5 separate regions of the Homo sapiens genome follow, and regions 2, 3, 4 and 5 are each linked to region 1. The links come from fine-mapping of genetic effects on gene expression. A gene starts in region 1. Each other region holds a variant in brackets. All regions are shown on one strand. Distances are from middle to middle. Region 1 holds the start of PTPN12 (protein tyrosine phosphatase non-receptor type 12). Region 2 overlaps PTPN12 (protein tyrosine phosphatase non-receptor type 12). Region 3 has its middle 33 kb from the start of PTPN12. Region 4 overlaps APTR (Alu-mediated CDKN1A/p21 transcriptional regulator). Region 5 has its middle 46 kb from the start of PTPN12.

Region 1 (5,106 bases):
CTCGGGAGGCCGAGGCTGGCGGATCACTCGCGGTTAGGAGCTGGAGACCAGCCCGGCCAACACAGCGAAACCCCGTTTCCACCAAAAAAATACGAAAACCAGTCAGGCGTGGCGGCGCGCGCCTGCAATTGCAGGCACTCCGCAGGCGGAGGCAGGAGAATCAGGCAGGGAGGCTCTTTTTTTTTTTTAGAGACAGAGTTTCGCTCTTGTTGCCCAGGCTGGAGTGCAATGGCGTGATCTCGCTCAATGCAACCTCCGCCTCCTGGGTTCAAGCAATTCTCCTGCCTCAGCCTCCTGACTAGCTGGGATTACAGGCATGCGTCACCACGCCCGGCTAATTTTTTGTATTTTTAGTAAAGACGGGGTTGGTTTCACCATATTGGCCAGGCTGGTCTTGAACTCCTGACCTCAGGTGATCCGCCCGCCTCGGCCTCCCAAAGGGTTGGGATTACAGGTGTGAACCATCGCGCCTGGCCTTTTTATTTTTATTTTTTGAGACAGACTCTCGCTCTTTCACCCAGGCTGGAGTGTGGTGGCACGACCTCGGCTCACTGCAATCTCCGCCTCTCAGGTTCAGGCGATTCTTCTGCCTCAGCCTCTGGAGTACCTGGGACTACAGGCGTGCACCACCACACCCGGCTTTGTATTTTTAGCAGAGACAGGGTTTCACCATATCGGCCAGGTTGGTCTCGAACTCCTGACCTCAAGTGATCCACCCAACTCGGCCTCCCGAAGTGCTAGGATTACAGGTGTGAGCCACTGCACCTGGTCTGAAGTGCATATTTCTGGAGTGGATGTATTAGTTGGATTATTTTAACAGAAATATTTTCCTTTTTTTGAAGAAGTAAATAAACTATATCCTGTTACACCTATTTTCTTTTCTTTTTTTTTTTTTTGAGACAGGGCCTCACTCCCGTCGCCCAGGTTGGGGTGCAATGGTGTGATCACAGCTCACTGCAACCTCCGCCTCCCGGGTTCAGGTGATCCTCCCATCTCGGCCTCCCAAAGTGCTGGGATTACAGGCGTGAGCCACCGCGCCCGGCCTACACCTATTTTCTTCAATGAGTTTTTCACTAAATTCCATAGTGCTCCTAACTTTCATCTGAGAAAGTATTCTACCACTGATATTTCCTATTATAACCAAATTCGCTGACCAATCTGCTCTGTAAAAAAAGGTTTGTGGGTATAAATGACGAAAGTCAGTTCATGGATCAAATCCTTCAGTTCTGTCACATTGTGAGAGGCCACTGTTGTGAAAGTAAAATAACTTCTAGTTACGGCTCTGCTAAGAATACGCTGGGGGATGTCAGGAAGTCGCTTTATTTGTAAAATGATGAGTTAGACCAGAATATATTCTCTGATAGAAGTTTACAAAGATGAATAAAGATTTATAGGCTAGGCGCGGTGGCTCACGCCTAAAATCCCAACACTTTCGGAAGCTGAGGATCCCTAGTGCACAGGAATTCGAGATCAGCCTGGGCAACCTGGTGAGACCCCCTTCTCTACCAAAAATAAATAAATAAATAAATAATAAATTTTTAAAATGTATTAGCTGGGCTTGGTGACGTAGTGAGGCAGGAGGATGCCTTGAGCCCAGGAGTTCAAGGCTGCAGCGAGCCGTGATCATAGCACTGCACTTTGGCATGGGAGATAGAGCAAGACCTTAGCTCTAAAAAAAAAAAAAAAAAAAAATTAATAGATTTATAAAGTCCATTCTATGGAGGAAAGTCTCTTATTCAGTTATGAACTGCTGCGAACCTAAAGGCAGGAAGGCAAATTCCCTTCAGTTCGGCAAACACGAAGACCCCACATTCGCGTCGTCTGTGAAGAAGGCACTCCGAACCTCAGGCGCTCACTCGCCAGGTTTAAGAGGATGAGCAAAGAATAAAAGTCCTCTCACCCAGGAAGCGTTTCGCTTCCCTTAGCTGGAGCCACGCTCCAAGGTGCCAAAGCCTAATTGCTGTCCACTCTCACCAATCCGTTAGCAAGATGAGCATCTACCTGCTGCGAACGTGGCGGTGACACTACTACAGCTCCCAGCCTGCCTCCCGCCCGCCCCCACTCCTGGACTCCACAGACCGTGACTTGTAGTCCCAGCCCACGGCTGGCGGCGGTGCGGGACTCCTGAAAACTGCTTTTCCTCCCTAGTAGGCGGTGAGACCGCAAATTCCATCAGAATCCTACTCTGACCCACTAGGGCTTGGCCCGCTCAGAGTCGCATTCCCTCCTCCAAATGAACCAACTCTCCTCCCAGCGATACTCCGACCTCTGAGCACCCCGGGCGGGGCCACGCCCCGGAAATGGAGTCAGGTCTCCAGGCCGCCCGCTGAAGTGCCTTCCAGCCACTCCAAGCGGGGCTGGGGCCGGCGGGGCGGGCTTGGGGGCGTGGCCGGGAGGCGGGCGGGGATGCATCTGCGGGCGCAGCGCTTGGGGCGGAGCCGCAGCGCGAGGCCGCGCATCTGGGTGGCGGCGGGGACGCGCCCGTGGGGAGAGGCGGCTGCGGCTGCGGCTGCGGCTGCTGGCGGGGGGTGGGGGGGAGGAGGAACCGGGAAGGGGGGGCAGGGCGAGCGGAGAGCTAGCTGTGTTCCTGAGGCGGCGGCGGCGGCGGCGGCGGCGGCGGCGTCTCCGACGGAGGAGGAGGGCGGGGAAGGAGGATGGAGCAAGCTGGGGGTTGGGGTTGGCGCTAGCGCAGCGGCTCGCCTGGTACTGTGGGAGAGCGGCGGCTGCTCCTGGAAGTTGTGGTGTCGGGAGCCCAGCCGGTGCCGCCGCAGCCGCCGCCTAGGGCGGTGGGGAGGAGGAGGGAGCCGCGGGGCTTGGCGGGGTCGGGAGGGAGGGACGTGCTGGGGGAACGAGCTGGGGAAGACGGAGCGGGCTCTGTGCCGGGCGGGCGGGCGGCGGGGGGGCCAGCGACCGCAGCCGGGGGGACGCGGGAGGATGGAGCAAGTGGAGATCCTGAGGAAATTCATCCAGAGGGTCCAGGCCATGAAGAGTCCTGACCACAATGGGGAGGACAACTTCGCCCGGGACTTCATGGTGAGTCTCTCCCCTCGCTGTCGCGTTTTCTTGCCGGCGCCGGAGCCCATCGCCGCCTCTCCCGGCCGGGCCGCCAGTGCTTTGTGTACCTCTGTGAGGAGAGGGGCGGAGGGGGCGCGCACCAGCCGGGTGAGCCGGGTGGTCTCGGAGGCCAGCGGGAGGCGAGAGCGCCTCCCCCCGTGGCCTCCTTTCTTCTCCCATGTTCGCGACCCCCGCGCGGGTTCCCGGGACGCGAAGGGAGCGGCCGCGCGGCCGAGCCCGCAGCCTGCACCGTGGCTCGCGACCACCTATTGTTTACCGGGCCGGGAGCCGTAGGCAAGTGAGGTGCAGGCCGGGGGGGGGGGCTCGCGTTTCCACACCTCCCCGCGCAGTTCGCTCCTCCCAGGAGGGTCGAGGCAAGGTATCTGGCTGTGACCGGGAGGAGTGCAGATCGTGGCTGACAGAGGAACGGGGGTATTGAGGTTGGCACTAACTCCTGGGATCCCTTTGCTCTAGCTGGTCTCAAAGCGGGCAGGGTAGGACTTAGGCCGTTTCTGGGGTCGCAGTCATGATCTCCAACGCTTGGGAAAGGATTGCCCATAAGGAATCTCATGGGTTTACCTAATTTCCATTTACCCGCGTCCCGCTTCTCCTCTCCTGAGGCCCAGGTTTGAGGTGGTCTTGGGGTCCGTGTGACTATAGGTTCAGGGGATAAGTGTGGGTGGGGGAATTATCCTGAAGGAAGCCAGCCGACTTCGGACTCCCCAGGGGATATTGCCGAAGGCGGAGGGGATGTGACTATCACTTCCTATCCGGGGTGGGGGTGGGGAACTTGGGAACAATAGTCCTGGTGGGGCGGAGGCGACGCTACGGGCCGAAGCCCTGAACTGGGAGATAACCTTCCCAGCGCCCCCCCGCCTCCGCCACCCCCTACTTTCCGCCCTCTGCTTGTGCAGGCAGTCTTGAGAGGAGGTGAAGGTTAAAAGTCTTGTTCATGAAATTGCTCTAGATACACTATTGCTTTAGCACACTGTGAGGGGGTCAGATCCGAAGGCGTGAGACCAGAAGTCGACTTCCTACGTTACCCACCCCCCCAACCCCCGCCCTTTTTATTTTTCTGCTGGACAATGTTCCCTCTAGGGTTGTTTCCCGGCTTAGGAGGCGGTGGTTGCGGCTGCTGCTCCTACGGATATTGCGCAAGACTGGGGCGTTGGAAACCCTGTAGGTCTGGGGAATGAAAAAGGAAGTGGGACTTTGGGAAGTGGTTGCTCCTTAGTCTTGGCGGGGGTTGGGAATGGGAAATAAGCTGGGGAAAATTTTTATCTTGGGTAAGGTACACCTCGAAGAATAATCACTTAATTCTGAAATCTGATTATGAGAAGGATACACAGTTAATGCCTGTAAAATGAATGGGCAGCAAACATTGGCTAGTTTTTATTTTTTGTTTAAAAAGTACAGTAGTTTTTATGGTGGAGGTGATATGACTTAGTAGTGAATACTTTTTCACGTTTTAAAGAGACTGGTCTAGTAAAGCTTTAGCGTTAAATTTTTAACAGCTTATAAAATAGGCCCTTGACCATACACAGTATTATACTAGCATCGTTGAGCTTTGTGATTCCCGCCTCCCCAGACCAATAATAGAGGACGGAAGTAAAGTTTTCTCAGTATCTTTTGAAGATTGAAAATATAAGTTAAATAATCTAACTTATTCCTTATTAAAAATAAAAATATTGCTTATATTTAAACATTTGCTCTTGATATTTAGCCTATGTATTTTTGAAAAATTACTTTTTGATCTGAAAGGGTTAAGGAAAACGGCATTTTCCCTTTTTACTATTGAGAGTTTTTATTGTCTTGGTATCTTTTGAATGGTGTCATTTACAGCAATTGGATGGAGTCCCTTTTTTACTACTTTCTAGCAAAAGTAGAAGAAAATACTTTGAATATTTAAGATGTTTAAAACTAGTTTTTTTGGGTTTTGTTGTTTGGTTGGTTGGTTGGTTGGTTTTTTTTTTGAGACGGAGTCTCGCTCTACGCTCTGTCGCCCCGGCTGGAGTGCAGCGGCGCAATCTCAGCTCACTGCAACCTCTGCCT
Region 2 (5,106 bases), 30 kb after region 1:
GTGTTACTTTGAGATAGTATAGTGTTACTTTGGCTGGTACTCTAATTTTACTGTATGCTGCTATTAATTTATATTTGGGGTTTTAAGAAATTTTGGTTTGGTTATCATGCAGTTTGTAGGGTTAAATTAATACTATTAAGATGGTGTGGTTTTTCTTACTGAGGACAGTTAAAATTTTCAAATATAAAGCCAGATGAATTTATTTATTTAACAATGGTTATTGAATGTGAACTATGTCCCAAACCTGCTACCGTTTAAAATTCAGATGAATTCTCCAGTAATTGCCTCAGAAATTTTCCGGAGCAATTAGGTAAAAGGAGTATGATTTTATGGGTTAGGTAGCCTTAATATTTTGCCACAGTATAACTCTTAAGCTTAAAGTAATTTCCATTTTTATTTACTATACAAAGTATAGTTTTAATATTTGTATATTCTTATATGCATATTTACTAAAAGTTGTGCCTTATGAAACTCATACTGTGTTTTGTTGTTGTTTTTTGTTGTCGTGTTTTTTTTTTTTTTTTTTTTTTTTTTTTTTGAGACGGAATCTCGCCCTTGTGCCAGGCTGGAGTGCAGTGGCACGATCTCAGCTCACTGCAACCTCCGCCTTACTGGTTTAAGTGATTCTCCTACCTCAGCCTTCCGAGTAGCTTGGATTACAGGCATGCGCCACCATGCCCAGCTAATTTTTGTATTTTTAGTAGAGATGGGGTTTCACCATGTTGGCCAGGATGGTCTCGATCTCCTGACTTCGTGATCTACCAGCCTTGGCCTCCCAAAGTGCTGGGATTAGAGGCATGAGCCACCGCACCCAGCTGAAACTCGTACTGTGTTTTAAGTGTTATAACATTGAGGAATTTGAGGCAGTGGTGTGTGGTCTAATAACAGAGCATGAGAGAGCTTCAGCTTTGATACTTAATTTCTATATATCCCATCTTATTCCGAAAGGAATTTCAGTTAGCTTAATTTCCATTTTAGTGCTGTTTCTTTTTGTGTTAATTTATTGTTTTCTTAATTGTGCTGATTTAAAATCCAGCCAACAAATTAATTTAACGCTTGTCTGTCTAAATGTATTTTCACTTCAAAGTCTCTTCAGTGAATATGAAGACAATTAGCTATATTTTTGCTAACAAGATTTGCTGATGGGGAGAAGAGCGAGATAAAGGAACAAATCAAGGATGAGTGTTAGGTTTTTGGCTTGAACTACTGTTGAATGGTGGTGGTTTTTGGCTTGAACTGCTGTTGAATGGTGGTGCTATTTGGGCATGTTTGTGATGCCCATTACACATCCAGTGGACAGGCCAATAGACAGCTCTTTGACTCTGGAGAGATTTAACAAACTTTAAACATTCTCAGGAGCTTAGATGAACAATGAACTGTTCCACTCTTTTAAGAACTTGAATCTTGACACACAAGTGGGTATCTTAAAGTCACATTGCATGTGATTTTGGAGGCTTTTGAGAATCCATTTATTGATTTAGGATTAGGGGAATACAAATTTAGTGTTTTAGGAAATTGTTTAAAGCAAAGTGAATATTAAACTCGAATTTTGTTTGTATCAAAAATTCTAAGTATTAAAAATGTTTCTCTGACTTGTCTGAGAAGGCTCAGTAAATAATTCTTCAATTTGTAATGAGAGTTTTGCTTTGCATTAGCTATTGGTCTATAAAGTCCAGTAAGATAGTCTAATCTCTGCCTTCAGTTTTATAGATTAGTGGACGAGACAGACAAGTACTGAAATACTTAAGAAATACTTTTCACAAGTGGCAATAGAACAATGTGTTATGGACTCATTGCAGAAGGCTGAGGAGCAGTAAAGGAGGGAAGGTTCAAGAAAGCCTTCAAAAAGGAAATAACACTTTAGCCAGAGCCCTACTCACCAGTAAGAGCAAAAATTGTGCAACTTTGATATTTAAGAAATGGAGGGTTACTGCTAGTCATAGTGGTGGTGAGTAATTCTATATGACTAAAGCATCAAACTCTAATAAGAGCATTATAAAAAGAGGCTAGAAAATTGGACAGGCAACATTCAACATATCTTATAATTAAAGATTTGGTAGTTTATGTTAGAGGTGATAGACACATAGGAGAGTTTTTAAATGTGGGAGTAAAATGGTCAGACTTGACTTTTTAGAACAGTAATAAAGGAGTGCAGTTATTTTTGGAATTCATTTATGTGACTTTTTAAAGACTTCTGGGGTAGGCTGGTGCAGTGGCTTATGGCTGTAATCCCATCACTTTGGGAGGCTAAGGTGGGCAGATGGCTTCAGTCCAGGAGTTCGAGACCAGCCTGGACAACGTGGCGAAACCCCATCTCTACAAAAAATACAATTAGCCAGGCGTGGCGGTGCGTGCCTATAGTCCCAGCTACTCGCTAAGGGACGCTGAGGTGGGAGAATCACCTGAGCCCAGGAGTTTAAGACTGCAGTGAGCTGTGATTGCACCACTGCATTCCAGCCTGGGCAACAGAGTGAGTCCCTGTCTCAATAAAGATCTTTAGGGTAGACTTAATTGCAAATGCTTTCTTAAAGGATTTGTTTGTTTTCTTAGCTTTTTTTTAAAAAGTCACACGATAAAG[G/T]GTGTGGTGGGTACCTATAACTTAATACGGACATCATTTAGCTATATTTTTGCCCAGTTAATACAGTAAATGATTAAAAATTCTTTCTTGCTTTAGGATTATATGAAATAATTAAATTATATAATAAATGAATTATTTTATTAATGTTTAGTGCTATTCTCATACAGTCTATGAATAAGGTTTCTTAGTATATTATGTTTCTCAATAATACAGAATTTTTTTGTTTCTTTCTTAGTAATAGCTTCATCAGAGACAATAGAATAGTGGTCGGGAAGTTAAAATGAAATTATATGTGTAGATAATTCTGTTTCATAGAGTTTAAATGAACTTTGGTGCTACTTCTATTCAGGAACTATTTAGACATTAATGTTGATGTGTTAAAAAAAAAAAAAAACCTGCTCTAGGCCAAATCAGATCTTAATCTGGTGGTAATTTTGTACCCACAGAGTTTATTGTTTAACAGGGCAAATTAGATGTATTCTCTTTATATATTTATCATAAGAGTAAGAAATGTAAGTGTTCTAAAAGTACATATAAAGGTAAAACAATTCAGAGGGGAAGATTATGTCTGGAGGAAGGGCATCAGAAACTCTGTAGGAGCTAGGGCTTAAAATTAAAAGATAAGTAAGCTTTGGAGGTGTGCAAGTGGGGAGACCACCAACAAGCAAAGAAAAAGCATACACAAAGACACAGAAAAATGATTATCATGGGATTTTTTTTAAAGTAGAATCTTAGCAACTTTTAAAAAGACAAATTATCAGGCAATTACCACCTCAGACCTACTGAATCAGAAACTACTGGGATGAGGCCCAGCAATGTGGCCCTCCAGGTGATTCTGAAGCACACTCAAATTTGACAAACTGCTTTGCAATTTCAGGCAGATAAATTGACCTGGAATATGCAACTCTTTCTGATCTTTGATCTAGGAAAGGTTTTAAAGAAATAAATCTGAAGTAACAACATTTAAAGAGTTCCAGTAATTAGTTCAATAATAATAGTTAACATTTATTGAGCCATTTTATGTACTAGACCTTTTGCTGAGTAAAGGTTATTATCTCAGTTTTATAGATGAGACACAGAGAGGTTAAATATGTTAATTGTCACACAGCTAAGAAAGTACCAGATCCAGAATTTTAATTTATGTAGCTTACTATAAAGCTGACATTTTTTGGTGGGAAATAAGTTCCAACTTGTAGATACCTTTTTAAAGTACAAAACAAAGTTTTTACTTGTTTTATGGACCACTTTTGTATCTCTGATGGGCATGAAAATTGCTAAGAACACTATTGTAGATTTTTATTTTAATAGAGCATTCTCCATTTTAAACTTTAATTATAGAAAGCATTTTAAGAAATGGCATGCTAGGCTTTAAGAAAACTGGATAAATGAAAATCCAAACTTAAATAAGATAAATATTTGGACGCAAAAGTTCTCAAGGTTCATTATGAGAAATGTAGTCATTTCACATAAAAGCTTTGTTTTGCACATTTCTCAATAATGTAATTTGTCATGTAAAAGAAGAAAAGTCTGGAGTGGGCCAGGCATGGTGGCTTACACTTGTATTCCCCAGCACTTTGGAATGTTGAGGCAGGAGGATTGCTGGAGCCCAGGAGTTCGAGACCAGCCTCCGCAACATACATGGGGAGACCCCAGCCCTACAAAAAATAGTAATAATAATTAGCTGGGCATGGTGACATGAGCCTGTGGTTCCAGCCACTTTGGAGGCTGAGGCAGGAGGATCATTTGAACATGGGAGTTTGAAGCTATGGTGAGCCATGATCATGCCACTGCATTCCAGTTTAGACAACAGAGTGAGACTCCGTCTGTGAATGAGTGAATGAATGAATGAAAAAGAAAAAGCTTAGAGTGATTGTACCAGGCATTCCTGAGGTACATTCACATTTTATAATTAAACTCAACCACTCTTTGTACTAAATTTTTTCTCGCTGACATTGACCTAAGATATATTCCTTTCCCCTCTGTGTTTCTGCAACTATTTAAGTTGATATCCTTCTCTAAGTCAGATTCAAAATAATATTTTGAAATGCACTGATACTATAAGTATCTAAAAATACATCTTTTCAGATGCTTAATCTTTGAGCAGAGAAAATACAAACATTCTAATTAAATGTGCAAGATGCGTATATAAGTAACCATGAGGATCTTTGTTAATATGGAGTAACGACATCATAAACAATCTTTTCTACTGTCCTTTTTTATTTACGTTCAATTTTTTGAACAGGCAATACAGTCATACAATCCAAAAGATATGAAAAGACATAATAGTAATGTCTCATTCTCATCCGTTTCCCTTAGGTACCCATTTCCCTTCCCCACAGACACATACTTTGTTAATAGTTTTTCTTCCAGAGATGATATATGCATATGTACAAGCAAATGCAAATGTTTTTATTTCTTTTTAACACCAGTAGTAATATATTACATATATACATACTGCACTGTGTATATAATGTACACTATTGTTTCCTGCTTTTTACATTTATACTTAATATGTATTTTTCAGATAC
Region 3 (5,106 bases), 33 kb before region 1:
TATTTTTGAGACAGAGTCTCGCTCTGTCACCCAGGCTGGAGTGCAGTAGCCCAAACACAGCTTGTGCAGCCTCTACCTCCCAGGCTCAAGTGATCCTCCCACCTCAGCCTCTCAAGTAGCTGGGACTGCAGGTGTGCACCACCATGCCTGGCTACTTTAAAAAAATTTTTTTTTTTTTGTAGAAGCAGGGTTTCCCTATTTTGCCCGGGTTGGTTTCGAATTCCTGGGCTCCTTCCTCAACTTCCCAAAGTGTTGGGATTACAGGCATTAGACACCATGCTCAGCCTTTACATTCTTTAAAAAACTATTTATAATGAGTGTATTTTACTTTATTTCGTTCATTGAAAATATATGTAGAAAGCGAATGACCACTGGCATGACTGAGCTGGGTGTGGTGGTGTGCAACTGTAGTCCCAGCTACTCAGGAGGCTGAGACAGGAGAATTGCTTGAACCCAGGAGGCGGAGGTTGCAGTGAGCTGAGATCGCCCCACTGCGCTCCAGCCTGGGCGACAGCAAGACTTCGTCTAAAAAAAAAAAAAAAAAAAAAAAAACCGCGATATGATCTGTGATTGCACACAAGCACACTGTTTTTATCTAAGTAAATCTGAAGTGATTTGGGGGGGGGGATTCCAATAGATTTTAGGGTCTTCAAGTTTTATTACATAGCAAGCTCATTTCTATTTAGATAGTGTGTTTACTTATTTAGACGGTATTATGTTTAATATGGCTGGGTGAGGGCTGACAGTAGGAAGGCCTCCTCCAGCCACTCCTTGGCACTACCTGTTTCATCACTTTGGGCAAATTATTTTAACCTCTTGAAGCCTCAGTTTCCTCATCTGTAAAATGATGTTAGACTACGTAATTTTAAGAACTTTTGCCCAGCTTTCAGATTCTATAATTCTGGTATTTTGTGACATCCAAAACTCAAATGAGGAAAACATTAGTTAGAGGGGCATGGTTATTAATTGTGATTTGTGACTGCACTTTACATAAACTCTGGATTTAAAAGATGCTATTAATTTTACATTTCCATTAACAGAAGGGAATACTGTTGTGAATTATCCAGAATAGCATAATTTAAAAGTCATTTATAGTTAGCTTTAGCATATCTTAAAGTATCAGATGATTTCTGAGCAAATATAATAATTTTTATTATGTTTTAATATTAAAATGATTCTCCATTCTCTAAGTGACATTTGTAGGCAATATGATAAACCTGTAAATGTTTTGAATAAAATTAAAAAATGTAGAAAGCTAAAAGTTGACTTAACCTAGAAATGTTACCAAAAATTGCAAATACCTTGTTCAGTGTTGAAACACAACTGTGAATATGTAGGCAGCACTTCACGGTGATTAACAGCATCAATGTTACTGTCAGACAGACCTGAAGCTACCTCATGTAAGTTATCTAAGCTCTTTGAATTTTAGTTGCCATATCTATAAAATGGGACTGAAACATTGTACCTATTTTGTAGGAGGTGATTTGTAACAGGTGATTTGAAAATTAAATTAAATTAAATTATAAGGCTAGGTGCAGTGGCTCACCCCTGTAACCTCAGCAATTTGGGAGGCTGAGGTGGGCAGTTCACCTGAGGTTGGGAGTTGGAGACCAGCCTGGCCAACATGGTGAAACCCTGTCTCTACTAAAAATACAAAAATTAGCCAGGCGCAGTGGCATGCACCTGTAGTCCTAGCTGCTTGGGAGGCTGAGGCAGGAGAATCGCTTGAACCTGGGAGGCAGAGGCTACAGAGAGCTGAGATCCCATCATTTCACTCCAGCCTGGGCAACAGAGCGAGACTCTGCCTCAAATAATAAATAAATAAATGAGATAATATAAGGAAAGCACCCAGTACAGTGTTTGACATATGTTTGCTCAAAACAGCTGATTTCTTTCTCTCTTTTTTTTTTTGTCCTTAAACACAGTATTTACTCGACTCTTCACTTACAAATAATATACTGGTATATTATTTAGTATATGTTGTAAATCGAAGGTATCATAGGCTTTATGATTAACAGTTCAAATTCTAAAATTTAAATGCCTGTGTCTAAATGTCAACTCTGCCACTTGCATGCTATGTGACCTTGGATATCTGTAAATCAGAATGAATGATAATTAATTTATAGAGTTGTTATATGTATTAATTCAAATGAAATAATGCATATAAAGGATCAAAAATGTTAGCTACTATTACCATTCATTAACTATAGAAATCAGTCATCTAACATTGCATTTAGTGGCAGACCAACATACAAGAGAACATTGTTCTCTTTCTACTTCTTCACCACTCCTGTCTTATTTTGGTCTGCAAAATATCCTAAGGTGGAGGTACATCTTCATTAGGCCATGGGATCCTTTCTTTGATGGGACTTTAACAAGCATCTTTGAAGAAACACTCATGAAACTAAGTTTATAACAATGACTTTTTTTGTTAAGTGATGAACCCAGCAATATCTGTTTGCTGCCTTTTAAAAAAGTCTAATGAGCTTACCTGTAGCAAATAAAAACACAAAGAGCTGACCCAAGGACATTGAAGGCAACTTCTCAACAGGAAAATCTAGACAAAAATTATTATTATTATTATTATTATTATTTTTGAGACAGGGTCTCACTGTTGCACAGGCTGGAGTACAGGGGTGCGATCTTGGCTTATTGCATTCTCTGCTTCCCAGGCTCGGGTGATTCTTCCACCTCAGCCTCCCCAGTAGCTGGGACTACAGGCAAGCACCACACAATCAGCTAGTTTTAAAAAAATTTTTTTTACAGAGATGAGGTTTCACCACGTTGGCCAGGCTGGTCTCAAACTCCTGGACTCACGCAGTCCGCCTGCCTCAGCCTCCCAAAATGCTGGGATTACAGGCGTGAGCCACTGCTCCGGCCTCACTCTAATTAATTTTAAAACCTCATCACATTGGCAGCATTCTTTTTCAAAAATGATAACCTTTGTGTA[C/T]GCCCAATGCAGAATAATCCATTCATTTGTAATTACTTTCTTAAAAACCTGTATTATGTTAGTAGATTCCTACCCATTCTTCAAAGCACAGCTAAGATAATATCTCCCCTGTGAGACTGGCACCAATATTTCTTCCATTTCCCAGAAAGAACTAGTCCCTCCCTCCATTTTTACTTAAATGGTAACTCAGAATTAGCAGTATTTATTTATACAGCACTTAACATCAACAATCATTTCCTTGTTTGTTTGTTTTCTCCTGTTGGAATGGAGCTTACAAAGGATGTCTTATTCTGCAGAATATTCTTTGTATTTAGTTTTGGTCCAACTGATTTCTATTTTGTGCTTGGCCTGCCCTCCTTTGTAGAGTCTATGCTTTTCCCATTTGGGACATCTTTCCCTTTTTTGAAAGAAAGATTGAAACTACAACTTGGCTTCTTGAGTCTGTCAACTACATGGCTTATTTATTCATTTTCTTAACTCAACTTGCTTCTTAGCACACATTTATTTTAGATGGTGACCTTTATTTTTTTTATTTTTATTTTTATTTTTTGAGACAGGGTCTTGTTCTGTTGCCCAGGCTGGAGTGCAGTGGTGTCGCAGCTCACTGCAGCCCCGACCTCCTGGGCTCAAGCAATCTTCCCACCTCAGCCTCCTTGAGTAGCTAGGACTACAGGCATATGCCACCATGCCTGGCTAATTTTTTTATTTTTAATTTTTTTGTAGAGATGGGTTTCTTTCTGCTGCCCAGGCTGTTCTCAAATTCCTGGGCTCAGGCAACCCACCCACTACAGCCTCCCAAAGTGCTGGGATTGCAACTGTGAGCCACCACGCCTGGACTGATGGTGACATTTTTAAAAGCCTCTTGGCTTTCTTTAGTTTGGAAATTGAGGAAGAGATGGTTAGTTGACTCTTTACACCCTCCCTCGTATGACAATAGAAACTCCAATTTTCAGTGAGCAATTGATGACCCAAGGAAAAGACTGCTTTTCTCAGCAACTCCTGCAAATGAGTATGACCCTGTAACTAATTTATTGCCAATGATAGATGCGTGTCAATGCCCTCCACCCAAAAATCACAGGAGTATGCTAGTGGTTGAATAAGGTGGGTTTACTCCTTGTTATGAGAGAGAACATGCACCATGGGGAACTATGGGTGTCTCAGTAAAAAGAGTATTAGAAAGGCTTTAAATAAGATTTGCCTTGCTTTAGGTGGTTTTAGGAAGGGCTGAAGGAACCAGGGCTTTACTCTGGATTGGATGCCATCAGGAAGCAAGGGCAATTCTATGACTGGGTATATTAAAACATTGTCGGGGAAATGAAACATAGTCAAAGCTGTAATTGGTAACAAACCATATTAGGCAAAATAGGGAGATGTTTGGTCACTTTACAGTTTGGACAATGTTCATGTTTTTGTCTGTATTCAGGCATAATTATGGTGTAGTTTTGTGTTTATATCGATCCATCATGGTCACAGAATGGCTTTGTCAAATGTTGGTATTCTTTGCAATTGCATATATTTAATAGGACAACACCAAGTTTTACTGTGACTGCTCGGGCAGCTCTTAGATGTCAGGTGCTGTTTTTCTCATTCATTTTTTGAGACAGCATCTCCCTCTGTCACCCAGGCTGGAGTGCAGTGGCACACTCACAGCTCACTGCAGCCTCGACCTCCTGGGCTCAAGTGATCCTCATACTTCAGCCTCCCTAGTAGCTGGGACTACAGGTGTGTGCCACTACACCCGGCTAATTTTTATATTTTTTGTAGAGACAAGGTTTCACTATGTTACCCAGGCTGGCCTTGAACTTCTGGGTTCAAGTGATCCAGTCACCTTGGCTTCCCAAAGTGCTGGGATAAGCATGGTGAGCCACTGTACCTGGCCATGCTTTTCTCTTTCTTATAGGTAAGCAAAGTATGGCAGTTCATGGAAACCGTCTTTATAAGAGAGCTGATGGGTCCTTTGCCCCCGATTATTCTTTTCTTCCTTCAGACAGACTGGAATATGGTTGTGATGGCTGGAGTAGCCCAGCTGAAACAAGAGGTGACCTTGGGAATGGAAGCTACAAGAGTACCAGGCCACCTCAGCTCTAGACTAAGCCATTGTTTTTTGTTTTTTTTTTTTTTTTTTTTTTTACTCACAGCTGAAGCTATTCCTGACT
Region 4 (5,106 bases), 130 kb after region 1:
TCCCGAGTTCAAGTGATTCTCCTGCCTCAGCCTCCCAAGTAACTGGGATTACAGGCATGCACCACCAAGCCCGGCTAATTTTGTTTTTTTAGTAGAGACAGGGTTTCTCCATGTTGGTCAGTCTATTCTTGAACTCCCGACCTCAGGTGATCTGCTCGCCTTGGCCTCCCAAAGTGCTGGGATTATAGACGTGAGCCACTGCACCAGGCCATATTTCTTCTTTTTATTTTTATTTTTTTGAGACAGACTCTCACTTTATCGCCAGGCTGGAGTACAGTGGCTCGATCTCAGCTCACTGCAATCTCTGACTCCCTGGTTCAAGCGATTCTCCTTCCTAGGCCTCCTGAGTAGCTGGGATTACAGGCACGTGCCACCATGCCTGGCTAATTTTTGTGTTTTTAGTAGAGATGGCGTTTCACCACGTTGACCAGGATGGTCTTGATCTCCTGACCTCGTGATCCACCCACCTCGGCCTCCCAAAGTGCTGGGATTACAGCTGTGAGCCACCGTGCCCAGCCATTTTTTGGTATTTCTAGTAGAGACACGGTTTCACCAGGTTGGCCAGGCTGGTCTTGAACTCCTGACCTCAAGTGATCCACCTGCCTTGGCCTCCCAAAGTGCTGGGATTACAGATGTGAGCCACCACGCCCCGTCAGTCAGTATATATATATATTTTTTTAATCAAGGAAATTAACTGTGAGAATACAAGGATAAACAAACCAAGTAATGAATGTCTTCATCACTTTAGTTTTTGGTCATTAGCCAGCGTTTAATCTTTAATTATAAGTTGAGTTTCTGTTCCATGCAACTGAAAAAGATCTAACACAGGTGGAATAACTGAGGAAGACTTCATGGGAGCCATGGGATATAAAGCGGCAGGACAGAGGCAGAGTGTATGTCAAGGGGGAGGGCCTCCTTAGTTGTGACATAGGCATCATAATGAGCACAGTGAGAAGTCTGCCTTTGGATAATGACAATAATTTACACTGGCAGAGTTGTGTAGCAGGGGTCCCGATTTAAGTCTAAGCTCTGTTCCCTCTAGGACTCAGCCATGGGGGCGTCCATCTGGAACACTGGTGGAGTTAGTCCACCGGAGGATATATTCACATAAGGGACAAAATAGCCTTTTGGGAGTCAGAGCGCGTGCATTTGGTTTAAGGCAATGTGAAAAACCGTAAACAATCTCAGATTTCACCCAACTTACAAGCTAAAAAGTTCGCCTGGCACATGGATGCTGGCAGAAGATATCATAGTCCTGAGCCAGAATGAAGAGTTTCTTACTCACAGCAATAGCCATAGCAATAGCCAGAGTATCAGTTTTGTGGTTTGTTTTTGGCATTAGTTAGCAAAGTCCCAATTTCCATAGGGAGAGGCAAAGAAGGCCAGATGGCATCTGCCCTTGCAGTGGGCTGCTTTACAGAAGGGGAACCTTCAGCTTCAGGAGCCTGAATCTTTTATAGTGGCAATAAACTTGCTTGCCCTTTGCTCTGGAAAACCTTATTCCTATCCTCTAAGACTGTTTGCTCTACAAACATCCCTGAAGAGAGAGTCCTGAAAGAAGGGCAGTCAGTGCTTCACTCACCAGATGTGCAGAAATGCACAGAGATCATGAAGAATGATCTCTGCCTAGGCCAGTGTTTGAGTGAAAGGATAATTCCGAGGGTCTGTCCTGGTAACCTCTCACCCATTCTAGCTCATACAGATTCACACCAGAGTTCTAATTTAAGGGGGTTGTAATTTAAGGGGGCTGTGATAAAAAAGTAAAAACTAAAGGGACTGTTTCATTGAAATCCTGTTCCATCACTGAGAGTGCAAGAAATTAGTATCACTGGTATCATTTATTTTGACAAAGCTAATGAATGTGGCTTTGGTACCAAGAGGAGGCATTACCACATCTATAAGCACATTATCACAGTGGCCTGGACTGAAGAGGAGGAGAGTAGAAGATACCACCTCTTACTTAAAATGATACGTTCATGGATGCTTGTGATATTACAACATTAGCCTGAAGTTTAAGTTTCCAAGAAATAATTTTAAGTCTCTAAGGAATTTAGAATGATAAAGTTCCATCGGTACTTGATGACTTTTGGACTATCCTCAAAAAACCCAATCAAATTTCCATCAACGGTTAGTGATTTCTCAACTATCCCCAAATATCCCCAAATAATACTCTTTAATACAAATAGTATTAAAGGGCAGTTTCTTAATCTTTTTTCCACATTATCACAAAGAATGGATGATGTTTATCTGTATGATGTATTTCCATGGATGTACTCAAATTTGGGGAAAAAAGGAAAAAAAAAAAAACACCCTGCAACAATTTTATTAGTAAATGAAGAAAATAATACTACAAAATCATTTTGTTAAATATTCACTTAAGGCTGGGCATCATGGTGGCTCATGCCTATAAACCCAGCACTTTGGGAGGCCGAGGCAGGGGGATCACTTGAGCCCATGAGTTCGAGACTACCCTGGGCAACATAGTGAGACCCCATCTCTACAAAAATTAAAAATTAAAAAAATTATTCTGGTGTAATGGTAAGTGCTTGTAGTTCCAGCTACTAGGGAGGCTCAGGCGGGAGGATGCTTGAACCTGGGAAGTCTTGGCTGCAGTGAGCTCTGATAATGCCACTGCACTCCAGCCTGGGCAACAGAGTGAGACTGTTTCAAAAAAAGAAAAGCCTTGGGTCCAGTGGCTCACACCTATAATCCCAACTCTATGAGAGGCTAAGGTGGGAGGATCACTTAAGCCCAGGAGTTCAAGATCCGCCTAGGCAACAAGCGAGACACTGCCTCTATAAAACATAAAAAATTAGCTGGGCAGGCGTACACCTGCAGTCCCAGCTACTTGGGAAGCTGAAGTTGGGGGGGAGGATCACTTGAGCCCAGAAAGCTGTGGCTGCAGTGAGCTGTGTTCGCACCAATGCACTTCAACCAGGATGACAGAGTGAGACCCTGTCAAACAAAACAAAAAACAAAAAGAAAAACAAAAGATGTTCACTTAATGTTAAGAATTCAACAATAGTGAAATCAGTTATGTAAGAATTGCCAAAATGTAGCATATCTAATTTTTAAATATCATGATTTCTCCCCCAGCCTTTACTCACA[A/C]CACCAATAAAACAAGTACACATTATTTGAAAAGGCATAAAATTTATTGTTAAAAACATAAAATTGGTAGATTCCCTCCATGTTATTGATATAAGGAATATTTTCACTTTCCTTTGAGAGTTTTCACTTGGCTATCATAACTGTTAGGACCCTACTAACAATGTTCAGAGACTACTGTTTTTGTGTACTGTAGATGTTGATGCACTCATTCACAATTTTCTCTTCTGTGGGTATGGGTGAAGTTTCCTTTATTTATTGATTTTTTTAGAGATGGGGGTCTTGCTTTGTTGCCCATGCTGGAGTGCAGTGGCATGATCATACCTCACTGCTGTCCCGAACTCCTGGGCTCAAGCAATCCTCCCGCCCCATGGGTGAAGTTTTAAAAAGTGAATTTGAAATACAAAAGTAATTCAAAATGGCCATAAAAGTAGGCTGTGGTTTATGTATAACTCCCTGCATGGAACTCCTTTCTCTCTCAGGAAATTATATTGGAATGCATGTGAGAAAGTGATTTCTAAAATGCCTCATAATGGTCTGTGTGGGTATACATACATATACACAGATAAATAATTCAAAACTTTGGTACCTTATTGTAGATGTTTGTTCCTTGAACATCTTGCATACCAAGATAAATTATTTTGGATCACCTAATATCAAAAAGTGACATACCCAAACCAAACCAAAACAAAAAAACAAAATGTGGATAGGCATGGTAGCTGACGCCTGTAATCCCAGCACTTTTGGAGGCTGAGGTGGGAGAACTCAGGAGTTTAAGACCAGCCTGAGCAACATAGCAAGACCTCGTCTCTGCTAAAGAAAAAATAAAATGGGAGGTGGGGTGCCAGCCACAGTGGCTGATGCCTGTAATTCTGGCACTTTGGGAGGCCAAGGCAGGTGGATCACTTGAGGTCAGGAGTTCAAGACCAGCCTGACCAACATGGTGAAACCCCATCTCTAGTAAAGAAATACAAAATTAGCTGGGCATGGTGGCACACGCCTGTAATCCCAGCTACCTGGGAGGCTGCTTGAACCCAGGAGGCAGAGGTTGCAGTGAGATTGCACCATTGCCCTACAGCCTGGGCAACAAGAGCGAAACCCCGTCTCAAAAAAAAAAAAAAAAAAAAAAAAGAAACAAAAAAGTGACATACCAATGTGTTATTTCACTAATGTTGCAAGTGCTGAGCAAGAGGACATCTGAGCAGATGATGTTGATGAGGTATCCTCTGAATGTGAGATTTCCTAGGGTGAAGGTAAAACAAGCGCTAAGGGGACTTTTACATAGGTTAGGGTACTTACCTGTCTGGAAATACTGCAGTATCTGAGTGAAGAAGTTCAATGAGAAAATAATTGTTAAAGCTAGTCTAAATGCACCTTATGCCAACCATAGTTACCGTGAGAGTTATTGGGAACATCTATTTCTCCGTAACCAGGAGACAATTGGGAACTTGGCTTTTAGCACATTTTACTTTTTTTTTTTTTTTTTTTTTTTGAGACGGAGTCTTGTTCTGTCACCAGGTTGGAGTGCAGTGGCACGATCTTGGCTCACTGCAACCTCCAGCGGCTCACTGCAACTTCCGCCTTCCGGGTTCAAGCAATTCTCCCGCCTCAGCCTCCCAAGTAGTTGGGACTACAGGTTCATGCCACCAAGCCGGGCTTACTTTATTTTTTTTTTAAGTTAATTAATTTTTTTTTTTTTTTTTTTTACTAGAGACGGGGTCTCACCATGTTTTCCAGGCTGGTCTCAAACTCCTAGGCTCAAGTGATCCTCCCGCTTCAGTCTCCCAAGGTGCTGGGATTACAGGTGTGAGCCTGTGTGCCTGGCCACATTTTACTTTTCTTAGAGCATATTTAACACTTGGGTTTATATTTCACTATTTGTGTATCTTTCTCTCCTTCCTAGATTGTAACATCCCGAAGGGCACTGGTTGTGTATTTTTACTCTTAGAATCCCCCACAGTGCCTCACATCCAGTGTCCAGGTTTGTTTAGAATTTGGAAC
Region 5 (5,106 bases), 46 kb before region 1:
TGAGCGTGCCCAAGTTATCACTGATGAAAATCTGACACCAGAACAAGTCTATAATGCTTATAAAACATCACTGTTTTGTGTTACTGCCCCAGGAAGACACTGACTACAGCTGATGAGAAAGCCCCTATAGGAATTAAGGATGCCAAGGACAGAATAACTGTACTGGGATATGCTAATGCAGCACACAAACACATTGTAAACTTGCTGTGACAGGCAAAAGCTTATGTCTTCACTATTTTAAGGGAGTGGATTTCTTACCAGACTATTATTATGCTAACAAAAGTGCACAGATCACCAGGGACATATTTTCTGATTGGTGCTCCAATGTTTTGTACCAGAAGTTCATGCTCACTGCAGGGAAGCTAAACTGGAGGATGACTGCAAGATTTTGTTACACGTGACAACTGTTCTATTCACCCTCCTGCTGAAATTCTCATCAAAAATGTTTATGCCATCTACTTTCCCCAAAATGTGACTTTATTAATTCAACCATGTGGCCAGGGTATCCTTAGATCAATGAAGAGTAAATATAAAAACACTTTCCTGAACAGCATGCTAGCAGCAGTGACAAGAGGTGTGGGTGTGGAAGGTTTGCAAAAAGAGTTTAGCATGAAAGATGCCATACATGCTGTTGCCAATGCTTGGAAGACAATGACTAAAGATACAGTTTTGCATGCCTGCAACCTCTAACCTGTGACTATGTGCAGTGATGATGATGATGAACTAAGTAGTGACTTTGAAGGATTTCATATGTCAAGTGAGGAAAACATGAATGTCTGACCTTATATATGCAAAATAATAATATATATGCATCAGTAAGCTGGAAGAAGTAGATATCAAAGAAGCTTTTAACATTGATAATGAGCCTCCAGTTGTTCATTCATTGACCAATGGTGAAATAGCTGAAATTGTTCTGGATCAAGATGATCACAATAATAGTGACGATGAAGATGATGTCATTAACACCAAAGAAAAGGTGCCTATAGAAGACATGGGTAAAACGTGTGATGGATTATTGAAGGACTAGATCAGTGTACATTCATAATTGAACAAATCATGTCAGTTTATAAAATGAAAGAGAAAATTCTAAGACAAAAAACCATTGTTAATGAGACAGATAACTCTGGAGGAAATTTTCTAAAAAGCCATTTTGCAGATTGCCTCCCCATCCCTAGAACACCCACCTTCTGGTCCTTCAAGTGCTTCTGATGTTTCTTCTCACCTAAAAATAAATAAAATAAAATAAAATACCTGTACAGTGACTTTTTGTTTGTTTTGTTTTGTTTTTTGCTTTTTGTTTATTTGAGACAGAGTCTCACTCTGTCACCCAGACTGGAGTGCAGTGGTACGATCTTGACTCACTGCAGCCTCCGCCTCCTGGGTTCAAGTGATTCTCCTGCCTCAGCCTCCTGAGTAGCTGGGACTACAGGTGCGCACCACCACACCCTGCTAATTTTTGTATTTTTAATAAAGACAGGGTTTCACCATGTTGGCCAGGATGGTCTTGATCTCCTGACCTCGTGATCTGCCCACCTCTGCCTCCCAAAGTGCTGGGATTACAGGTGTGAGCCACTGCGCCCAGCATACAGTGACCTTTTAATGAAAACACAGCATCATAGGTGGAGACGGCAAGCATGCTGTTGTTTGTAGCTGCTGTTGTTTAGCAGCCAGTACAGATATTCTGGTGATGCAACTGTGCTGCTTTGTTATCCTGAACACATTATTTTTCAGTGTATTAATGGTAAGTCATTTTTTTTTACTGTTAAGTATTTATATGTGGATAAGTATAAGAAAATGATGGCTTTTTGGTAGCATATAAATTCAGAGTCAGGAACAATGGTGATGCCAAACAACCACATATTTCCACATGAGTGGCTGAGATGGTGACACCTTTGCTTTTGCATGGTTTAATGTATACAAACTTTGTTCATGCACAAAACTATTTAAAATATTGTGTAAAATTACCTTCAGGCCATATATATATA[TA/T]TTATACATACATATATATATATATATATGGTGTTTATGAAACATAAATTAATTTTGTGTTTAGACTGGGGTCCATCCCCAAAATATCCCTATTACGTATATGCAAATATTCAAAAATCTGAAAAAAATCAAAATCTGAAACATTTCTGGTCCTAAGCATTTTGGATAAGGGATATTCAACATGTAAAATCTATTTAAAATGTTGGGAGGCCGAGGTGGGCAGATCACCTGAGGTCAGGAGTTCAAGACCAGCCTGGCCAACATGGTGAAACCCCGTCTCTACTAAAAATACAAAAATTAACAGGGCGTAGTGATGGGTGACTGTAATCCCAGCTACTTGGGAGGCTGAGGCAGGAGAATCACTTGAACCCGGGAGGCAGAGGTTGTAGTGAGCCGAGGTCACGCCACTGCACTCTAGCCTTGGAGACAGAGTGAGATTCTGTCTCAAAACAAAACAAAACAAAAAACAAACTATTAAAAATGTCCAGCATAATACCTCATACTGTCTCTCATAGGAGAGCCTCATTAAAGTTAATGTCATCCTTTTTGCTGACTGTCTTTGGAGAGGCTCCTCGTCTATTTCAAAGTAACATCACACAAAATTTACCACAAAAACAAGGGACAGGAGTTGAGAAAATTGTTAGGTTTATGCTTTGGGGTTAAATATAGGTCTTGCATTTCAACATTTTATTTTTCATCTTTTATTACCCATTATGATCAAAACTACCTGGCATGTACAAAACTATGGACTATGGAGTTAGATCCACATGCACTACCTGGCATGTATAAAACTATGGACTATAGAGTTAGCTGTCTGGGTTCCCAAAGCCAATGTTCAAAATAAATACATATGAACTTGACCAGAAGCACCTGCTTTTATCAGAAATACAAATGGCTGGTTTAAATAGCCAGATACATTTTATGAGAGTCTGAAACTTTTTCTGAATTTTTTTGGGGGGATGGAGTCTCGCTCTGTCACCAGGCTGGAGTGCAGTGGCGCGATCTCAGCTCACTGCAACCTCCGACCCCCTGGTTTAAGTAATTCTCCTGCCTCAGCCTCCCAAGTAGCTGGGATTACAGGCACACACCACCAGACCCAGCTAATTTTTGTATTTTTAGTAGAGATGGGGTTACACCATGTTGGCCAGGATGGTCTTGATCTCCTGACCTTGTGATCAGCCTTCCTCGGCCTCTCGAAGTGCTGGGAATACAGGCGTGAGCCACCGTGCCCGGCCTTTTTCTGGATATTTTAAATCCCTTGCCTATCATTATTTTAATTGTTTGTATTATTAACAATATAAAATGTTCTTCCCAAACTAGACTCATATAGTTTTCTTTTTTTAATTTAGACAACAAATATTTACTGAACAACTATAATATGAAAACAATGACAATAAAGATGAACATGGTATTTCCCTTTGAAGATCTCATTATGAACAAGCATTCAAAAAAAAAAAGGAAAGATCATTTTGTGACCAATTATTGTGACCAATTATTTTGGAGTTAGGATGTGTGTTTAAGGGAATAACCTGTGTGACTAATTTTGAGATGAGCAGTTAGGGAAAATGCGACTATAATTCATCCCTATAACTTTACAAACTGCGTTTATTCCTGTTGCATCTTACAATGAATGCTGTGCAGTTCCTTCTATCTGACAAGCATGGATGGATACTAGTCAAACATGCATTCACTCCAAATACAGCTTGCTAGTTACAGAAATAATTTTAAATAATAATTTAGAAAACATACAAGTGAGTACTACACTTCACAAAAAATCTTTCTCAATAGATATCTGAATAAATAGTAAAAAAAAAAAAAAACCTGCCCCAAAGTAATTTATGTTTTCAAAACAAAATAATAATGTTTTAAAGTGCTAAAACAAAGAGACAAATTAAAGAAGAGACTTCATGGAACGCTCAAGCTGTCTATTAGAATCTCTGCAGGAAGAGTCATTCTACTGAAATGGTAACCTAAGCTATCCCACAAAATTCTCATTTTCACTACCATGTTTTAATTTTCTCCATAAAATTTACCACAGTTGTCATAATACATATGGCAGCTGATATGGTTTGACTGTGCCCCCACCCAAATCTCATCTTGTATTGTAACTCCCACAATTCCAATGTGTTGCAGGAGGAACCCGGTGGGAAGTAATTGAATCATGGGGGCAGGTCTTTCCCATGCTGTTCTCGTGATAGTGAATAAGTCTCACAAGATCTGATGGCTTTAAAAATGGGACTTTGCCTGCACAAGTTTTCTCTTTGCCTGCTGCCATCCACTTAAGATGTGACTTGCTCCTCCTTGCCTTCCACCATGATTGTGAGGCATCCCCAGCCATCTGGAACTCTAAGTCCAATAAGCCTCTTTCTTTTGTAAATTGCCCAGTCTCGGGTATATCTTTATCAGCAGCATGAAAATGGACTAATAAGGTAAGTTGGTACCAGTAGACTGGGGTGCTGCTGAAAAGATACCTGAAAATGTGGAAGCAACTTTGGAACTGGGTAATAGGCAGAGGTTGGAAAAGTTTGGAGGGCTCAGAAGAAGACAGGAAAATGTGGGAAAGTTTTGAACTCCCTAGAGACTTGTTGAATGGCTTTGACCAAAATGCTGATAATGACATGGACAATAAAATCCAGACTGAGGTGGTCTCAGATGGAGGTGAAGAATTTGTTGGGTACTGGAGCAAAGGTGACTTTTGTTATGTTTTGGCAAAGAGACTGGCAGCATTTTGCCCCTGCCCTAGAGATTTGTGGAACTTTGAACTCAAGAGAGATGATTTAGGGTATGTGGCAGAAGAAATTTCAAAGCAGCAAAGCATTCAAGAGGTGACTTGAGTGCTGTTAAAGGCATTTAGTTTTATAAGGGAAGCAGAGCATAAACGTTGAGAAAATTTGCAGCCTGACAATATGAAAGAAAAGAAAATCCTATTTTCTGAGGAGAAATTCAAGCCAGCTGCAGAAATTTGCATAAGTAACAAGGAGCTGAATGTTATTCCCCAAGACAATGGGGAAAATGTCTCCGGGGCATGTCAGACGTCTTCGTGGCAGCCCCTCCCATCACAGGCCTGGAGATCTAGGAGGAAAAAGTGGTTTCATAGGCTGGGCCCAGGGTCCCCATGCT

The links.
Region 2: its variant is fine-mapped to the expression of PTPN12 in whole blood (INTERVAL, PIP 0.98).
Region 3: its variant is fine-mapped to the expression of PTPN12 in whole blood (INTERVAL, PIP 0.97).
Region 4: its variant is fine-mapped to the expression of PTPN12 in whole blood (INTERVAL, PIP 0.90).
Region 5: its variant is fine-mapped to the expression of PTPN12 in whole blood (INTERVAL, PIP above 0.99).

The regions. Positions count from the first base shown.
Region 1 is chr7:77,534,613-77,539,718 of GRCh38, forward strand. PTPN12 (protein tyrosine phosphatase non-receptor type 12) reads left to right here and starts at 2,683. Exons shown (of 18, transcript NM_002835.4): 1 at 2,683-3,033. The coding sequence starts at 2,935. It overlaps LOC124901681 (a long non-coding RNA gene), which reads right to left and starts at 2,337. Exons shown (of 3, transcript XR_007060395.1): 1 at 1,759-2,337; 2 at 1-1,669. RefSeq lists enhancers at 1,763-1,812, 1,983-2,202 and silencers at 2,273-2,572, 2,823-3,032, 3,173-3,222.
Region 2 is chr7:77,564,239-77,569,344 of GRCh38, forward strand. The region is part of intron 1 of PTPN12 (protein tyrosine phosphatase non-receptor type 12); the gene reads left to right. Among named protein-coding and RNA genes, the nearest start is that of PTPN12, 29 kb to the left of the region's middle. The variant G/T (reference allele first, on the strand shown) is at 2,579.
Region 3 is chr7:77,501,995-77,507,100 of GRCh38, forward strand. No RefSeq gene overlaps it. Among named protein-coding and RNA genes, the nearest start is that of PTPN12, 33 kb to the right of the region's middle. The variant C/T (reference allele first, on the strand shown) is at 2,951.
Region 4 is chr7:77,666,389-77,671,494 of GRCh38, forward strand. The region is part of intron 1 of APTR (Alu-mediated CDKN1A/p21 transcriptional regulator); the gene reads right to left. Among named protein-coding and RNA genes, the nearest start is that of APTR, 27 kb to the right of the region's middle. The variant A/C (reference allele first, on the strand shown) is at 3,109.
Region 5 is chr7:77,488,927-77,494,032 of GRCh38, forward strand. No RefSeq gene overlaps it. Among named protein-coding and RNA genes, the nearest start is that of PTPN12, 46 kb to the right of the region's middle. The variant TA/T (reference allele first, on the strand shown) is at 1,986.